2 linked regions of the Homo sapiens genome follow. The protein of the gene in region 1 interacts with the protein of each later gene in a biochemical or structural test. Each region holds a gene or a part of one and is shown on either strand. Other genes may lie near its edges.

What was found.
Region 2: the proteins of ARPP19 (region 1) and SNCA form a complex in vitro, tested with the Homo sapiens proteins (one study listed by BioGRID).

The regions. Positions count from the first base shown.
Region 1 is NC_000015.10:52,558,828-52,562,656, forward strand, and holds part of ARPP19 (cAMP-regulated phosphoprotein 19), read right to left. Parts: intron 1-3,829. UniProt on the Homo sapiens protein: Protein phosphatase inhibitor that specifically inhibits protein phosphatase 2A (PP2A) during mitosis. Inhibition of PP2A is enhanced when ARPP19 is phosphorylated.
Region 2 is NC_000004.12:89,830,333-89,834,161, forward strand, and holds part of SNCA (alpha-synuclein), read right to left. Parts: intron 1-3,829. UniProt on the Homo sapiens protein: Neuronal protein that plays several roles in synaptic activity such as regulation of synaptic vesicle trafficking and subsequent neurotransmitter release.

The sequences.
Region 1 (3,829 bases):
GTACCCACGGGGGGGAAAAAATTACAGGTCAGGCCATATTGCCCAAACTGGTCTTGAACTCCTGGCCTCAAAGCTATCCTCTCACCTCAGCCTCCCAATGTGCTGGGATTATAGGCATGCACCACCACATCCAGCTCTCATACATGTTTTATAATCAGCTTCATTCACTTTATATATTATCAGTATTTCATCCTGAACTGCTTCTTCATTTGTTGTTAGATCTTCTCATTTTCAGTCTCGGAGAATTTTGAGAAAAAAGCTGCTTCTGTCAAATACTGTTTTCTGTGGAGCCTCTTTTTATGTTGCAGATTCATCCATTTATGTTATCTCTTTACAGTGGCCACGTCATTCACTCACTTGACATGCACGACATTCAATTATGTGCACTTAGCCAGAAATAGAGAATTTAAATAGTGGTGAGTCTACCAGTCATTCCATTCAAGAAGGGTATGCTCCAGAGAGGTAAGTGTGAGGTATGTGATGCAAACCTGCCATTCCCACGTTAGTCTCTCGTTGGGTATCTTGCAGAGCATAAGTACATCAACATGCTGTTTATCATTGCAGTGTTTAAAATCTCAGCCCGTACAATACAAGCCTATTACCTTAGCTAGCACTCAACTTAAGAATCACCCTAGCCATCTAGCCATCTGTTCAAACGCTGGACATAAAAGTGACTACCTGCTCTACTGAGAATTGATGGGGCAGTCTCCAATATGATTATGCCTTCTCTAGAATTTTGTCAAGGGTGATTTTAGCTATATGTGATTTTTTTCCCTTACTAACATTAGAACCTAACCCCATGTAAGATATGACTATACCATATTCATCACCAAAGCCAGAGAAATAAACATAAATGTAAGATTACCAAGTTTAATGTAGGAAGGCGGGCTGAGTCACTGCACAGCTTCGATGTGGCTCAGCCCTCACTGCAGATATCTACTGCAGCCCAAGGGTGTTCTCAGTGCTGCAGTTTAGAAGTGGATGTGGGAGGAGAGGCCTACTCTTGGGTTTCCCTGCACAGCTGGCTTCAAATAATTTTGGCTGAAAAGGATCCCAAGCTAATTGTCACCCTTTAGTCCCTGCACCTTCAAATTAAGGGTGTTACTGGAGTCCTACATTTCCAATAAAAATTCAGCTTTCTTGAGCCTAGGAAGTGAGAGCTCTCCACTTCTTCCTTTGATTTGAAATAGTTCTCCAAGTCTAATAGTTCCCCGAATTCCTTAAAAATTTTTAAAGGAAAATTGTATGTAGGTAGCAACTTACTCTGGTTTCCAGTGTTTCTGCAGGTTTCCTCCATTTGATATATAAAGGAAAATACCTTGTACACAATCCGGGCATTCCCTTATTTTCTTTTTCTTTTTTTTTTGCCATGTTGGCCAGGCTGGTCTCGAACTCCTGACCCCAGGTCATCTGCCCGCCTCGGCCTCCCAAAGTGCTGGATCACAGGCATGAGCCACTGGGCCCAGCCGCATTCCCTTGTTTTCTTAATAAGGAATACATTGATATATCATATTAAGCATGCTTAATTAAATTAAAAAATGTTTGGGTAAAACAGCATCTATGAGCTGCAAATGTCATTTATATTTAGAATGAATTTATAACATGTCTTAGAAAAAAACAAGCCGATTCTTGAACTTTCTTGCCAAATACATAGCACAACTGAAAGCCCCTGCTAGCTGCAACTTCCTAACTGGATTCAGAATTTCAGTTGGATTTAACAGGGGGGAAAAGATGACCTAATCTAGATTTTTAAATGTGGTAAACACCATTAAGACTTCCACAAAAGTTTTCATGAATCCTACAGAAACATTCTACAGAGCTAGGCAGTTCTAGGACCTTAATGATAAGTTAGTTCAAGTGCTTGGACATGCATTAATATTCTGACAGTTACTGAGTTCTTATTAGGTTCTGTCAACGGCATCTATGCCAGATTAAAAGGCATGAGAGAAAGAATCCATTCTGCTCCTGGTGATGCCACCACCAACAGCAGACAGCAGTCGCCCCTGTGAGCTCCTACAGAGGGACATATGGCAGATAAACAGGGGCTCTAGTAGCAGCTACACGACAAGGGAGGCAGACGATGGTGGACTCTGAACAGTACTCATCCTTGCAGGGTCAAAGGCTTTCTGTAATCCTTACCTCTGGAAACACCATCTTCCTCCCTTTTGTTCCTCTATTCCTTCTAATAATTTGTAACCTTATTCCCTAAAAATCATATTCCTTCCTTTTTAAAAACATGCAAAGTGGTTTCTGCTCCTGTCTCCCAACAGGACACTGATAAAAGCAGGTAAAATAAGCGATTTATCCACAGTCATGTTCAAAAATGCAAAATAGAACACAATTTGATGTGACTCCACGTTTCTGGACCTCAAGGGAATTCCTAAACATTTACTTAAGCTAGAATGAAAACAAAGGGGAGATAAGCCAATAGTTATTTATTTGTTTATTTTTTCCAAAAAGAATCACAGAAAGATTAAATCATAAACTAATCAAGCTTTGGGTTAAATAGGTTAGGATGTAAGGGATAAAGGACAGGAATGACTATTACTAAACAAAGAAAATTGGTATATACATACACATATACTGATAACAAGTCAATATTGTAATTTTAATATCTTTATCATGTGGAGTTAAAAAAGAAAAGAATACTATAACAGTACCATATTTTTAGTTTAAGTGTTCTATGGTCCTGTATAATTTAGAAAAGGGTTTATAATCTTAATTTTTACATCTTGTTTAGTTAAGAATGCATGAAAAATTTCAAGGGGAACCAATTAAATAGCAGAAATAAAAAGGAGTGTTGGGGAGAGCAAGAAAGGAAGAAAAATAAAAAAAATTTTAAATACCAAAAAGAAACCAAACATAAGGAGAAACAAATCCCAATATGTTAATAACCACAATAACCATACTGAAGCAACAGACTGTCCATTTAAATCCAGTGGCTGGATTAAGGAAAAAAAAAAAACCTAGCCACTTGTGGAGTACACATTTAAAAAAATCTAAAAACAAGGACATAGGTTGAAAGTAAAAAGACTGAGGGTGGGTGGTGGTGGTAACATACCAGGCAAAAAATCCTTACCAAAACAGAGCTAGTGCAGTGCACCTACTTTTTTTTTTTTTTTTTTTTTTATTAAGATACATGGTCTTCCTATGTTGCCCAGGCTGGTCTAGAACTCCTGGCCTCAAGCAATCCTCCTGCCTTGGCCTCCCAAAGTGCTGGGACTGCAGGCGTGAGCCACTGTGCCACTAATAAAATGGCATGAAAATATACAAAGCAAAAACTGACAGAACTATAGGGAGCAACTGACAAGTCCACTACTATGGAATTCAACACAGCTTCCTCAATTATTGATAGCTATAAAAGATAAAGTAGTTAAGATACTTGATTTTAATTTTACATCTAACAATTAGGGAATGCATAGTCTTCCACAGCACAAATGGAAAAACTGACTAATACTAGGCCATAAAGCAAATCTTAACTATTTTCTTCCAGACCACCATCTATGACTGCAATTCATTAAAGTCAGTAACAACAAAAAAATTATAAATCTCTAATATTTAGAAATTAAAAACATACTTCTAAATAATTCCTGGTTAAAAAAGAAAGCACGAGTATTTAAAAAAAATAGGAGTTCTAGACCTACCCGGGCAACACAGTAAGACCTTGGCCTTTACAAAAAAAATTTAAAAATTAGATAGGTGTCGTGGTAGATGCTTATATGCCTATAGTCCTGGCTGCTTGGGAGGCTGAGGTGGGAGGGTCACTTAAGCCTACCCTGGGAGACAGAGTGAGACCCTGTTTCTTTAAAAACAAACAAACAAAACCCTA
Region 2 (3,829 bases), on another chromosome or scaffold:
TGAGTTCTAGCATTCTGTAGTACTGTAGGGTGATATACTTAACAATAGTTTATTGCATATGTTCAAAAATCTAGAAGAGAGAATTTTTAATTTTTACTGTTCCCACCACAAAGGAATGATAAATGTTTCAGGTAATGGATATGTTAATTACCCTAATTTGATTATCACACATTGTATACATGTATGGAAATATAATTCTGGATCCCACAATTATATACAATTATTACATATTCACTAAAAATAAAAGAAAAATTAAAAATAGAGTAGCATATGACCCAGCAATCCCTCTTCTGGGTGTAGATCCACAAGAAAAGATTTCAGCATATCTGTTTCCAAGGGCCCCAACACAGTGGCTCTTGCTTGGAATCCCAGTGCTTTGGGAGGCTGAGGCAGGAAGATCACTTATAACTATATAAGGAATTTTAAAAACACTAAAACTAATATTTATTTATTTAGCAAACCAGAATTTAAAACATTAGAAATTAAAGTGTTTTATTTCTTTGTAAAAAACTTATCAAGAGTAATGTAAATAGTGTTTGTCTTCTTCTCATTGTATAACTTCCTATACGGAGTGGACATGTTTTTTATATTTTACAGAATTGTCATACTCTATTCTAAATTTGAATTAGGAGTTTGAGACCAGTCTGGGCAACAGAGTGAGATGCTATATCTACAAAAAATATTAAAAATTAGCCAGGCATGGTAATGTATGCCTGTAGTCTCAGCTACTTGGGAGGCCAAGGCAGGAGGATCTCTTGAGCCCAGAAGTTTGAGGTTACAGTGAGCTATGATAACACCACTCCATTGCAGCCTGGGTGACAGCAAGACCCTGTCTCCAAAAAAGAAAAAAAGAAAAACATAATAGCCACAACTAAAGTGTCTACTGATAGATAGGTAGATAAAAAGATTGTGGTACATAGATACAATGGAATATCAGTCAGCCCTAAAAAAACAAGATCCTACCATTTACAACATGGATGAACCCAGACAAAATTATGCTAAGTGAAATAAGCCAAACACAGAAAGAAAAATATTACATTATCTCACATATATGTGGAAGCTTGAAACAAAATTCAAATATACAGAGACTACGTAAAAAACAGGGTTAATAGGGGTGGAAAAGTAGGTAGAAAATAGGGACATATAGGCCATAGGATCCAAGCAAGTAGCAGATGTGTAAGATGAAAAAGTGTACAGATCTAATGTATGAGGACTGTAGGTGATAAAATTGTACTATATTTGAGATTCATGATAAATAAGTGGATTTTAGCTGCCCTTGCCACAAAAACAACAAAAAAGGTAACTATGAGAGATTATGAATATATTAATTTGCTTCAATATAGTAATTTTTTAGTGTCTAATGTATCTGATAGCATCATGTTGCATACCCTAAATATACACAATTAAATTTATTTTTAAAAAAGAATGCCACTAGGCCGGGTGCAATGGCTCACGCCTGTAATCCCAGCATTTTGGGAGGCCGAGGTCGGGGATGATGAGATCAGGAGTTCGAGACCATCCTGGCTAACATGGTGAAACCCCATCTCTACTAAAAATACAAAAATTAGCCGGGCATGGTGGTGCATGCCTGTAATTTCAGCTACTCAGGAGGCTGAGTCAGGAGAATAACTTGAACCCAGGAGGCGGAGGTTGCAGTGAGCCGAGATCACACCACTGCACTTCAGCCTGGAGTGAAATGACAGATTGAGACCCTATCTCAGAAAAAAAGAAAAAAAAAAGAATGCCACTAAACCACACCATTAGAACTTATAATTAATTATTTTTTATAAATATCTTATGCAACATATTTTATATTTTTGTAGTGCAACCCCAAAGAGATAGGTATATAACTTAAAAAAACGAGATAAATGAGAGTCCTCATAAGGTTACCATGTATCAAACCAATCAGTTGTTCTTTGAGGTCATAATTATTTACTAATAATCTGTAATTGATGGTTAGCCTTTAATTTATGAGTAATCTGTAATTGATAACGTACACCTACAAAATAGGTGCCAAGTGGTTATGTGACTAGCAAGGTATAAATGCTGTAGGGACACCAGAGCTGATGGCTTCCCTGAGCGGAGGTGTCCCACACACACCCTATCTTGTCTTCCCAACCTCAAAAGAGCACAGAGTGGAGAAGAAGGTCAGAAGTAATACCTGAGAGTTTTGAGAACTCAGTTATCCCTGTTGTGCATGTTATGTTGACTTTGTCAGCTTAGTGAGGTGAAGCACATTTTGACTTGAGAATTTGCTATCAATTTCACTGATGGCCACTGCTGCTTATTGAGCAGAGTGGCATTGGAAGACACTCAAAGATCATCATTTTCTTGTATTTATTGCATTTATATTACTGAGCATTATATAAAGATAATTAAATCTTTCTGCTTTTGGATTTAGATCTAATTAATTTCTGAGTCATTTGAAGAAATTTTTGTCTATTAAATTGAAGTATGTTGATTGAAAATTGGTGTACGCAGATAACAAAAATGGAGGGAACAAAACCCATAAAAATAACACTGATCATTAAGGTAGTTCTTCAATGAGTTAAAAAGTAGTTGTTAAAAGTATATTCTTATAAAGGAATGAGATTACTTTTCTTATGAGGCTTCTACCAAACATCTTCAGCCATAAGTGAAATTATAAAATGGTCTTTGGTCGCCTCCAATCTTTCAAACTAGTTATGTAATGAAGGATAAAAGAATAAATGGAAAACGTGTTGGCAAAGTAATTATTCCGTTGGAGAGTTTATTTGATAATAATAACCATGGTTCCTATATATAAAAGTGTGCTCAATTATTCATATGTCCTGTCTTATTATGACATTCCCACAAAAACTGCAAGGTAGTTGCAGTTTTCTAAATCATATTTTTTACTAATCAGGGAAGTGATGCTCAGAGATGTTAAGTACGCTTCCCCAAGACCCTAAAGGTGATAAGTGATGTAGTCTCAACTAAAACTTTGGTTTGTGTGATTAGTGCATGTTCTTTCCACTCTATCAGTAGTCAGCAAGCTACAACATACAAGACAATTCCAGCCCACCACCTGTTTTGATAAATGAAGTTTTATTGGGACACAGCCACACTAGTTATTGTTTATGACTACCTTCACACTTCAACAGCAGAATTGAGACATAGATTTTTTTTTCTTTTTTTTAGACAGGGTATCACTCTGCCACCCAGGCTGGAGTGCAGTGGCTCGATCTCAGCTCACTGCAACCTCTGCAGTGAGCTGTATGGCTCAAGCCATCCTCCTACCTCAGCCTCCTGGGTAGCTGGCAATACACATGCATGCTACCATACCCGGCTAATTTTTGCGTTGTTTGTAGACACAGGGTTTCACCATGTGGCCCAGGCTGGTCTCAAACCCCTGGGCTCAAGTGATCCACCAGCCTCGGGCTCTCAAAGTGCTGGGATTAAAGACCTGAGCCACGGCACCTGGCCAAGACATAGATCTCATGGCTTAAAATACGTGCTATCTGATTCCTTACCCAAAATTTTGCCAATCCCTGGACTATACTATTGTGTCTTCACATGGTCATTTTTTATCTTAAATTCTGTGTGTAAGTTCAACTCTCAATTAGAACTCAGAATGTAACCAATAAAAAATTTATAGAATGTGCTATGTGTTAAATGCCATGAGAGACATTGAAAATGATTTCAATGAACAGTTAAAAGGTAACTAAGTCAAAGAAACTTGTGCTTGCAGAACTTGGAAATCTGAGGACAAACGGAAAGATATTGATAAACTGCATGTCACTGATTCAGTATTCCAAATTCCATCTAAAAAGGTATAATTCACACTTCATAAAATATTTAAAATTAACTC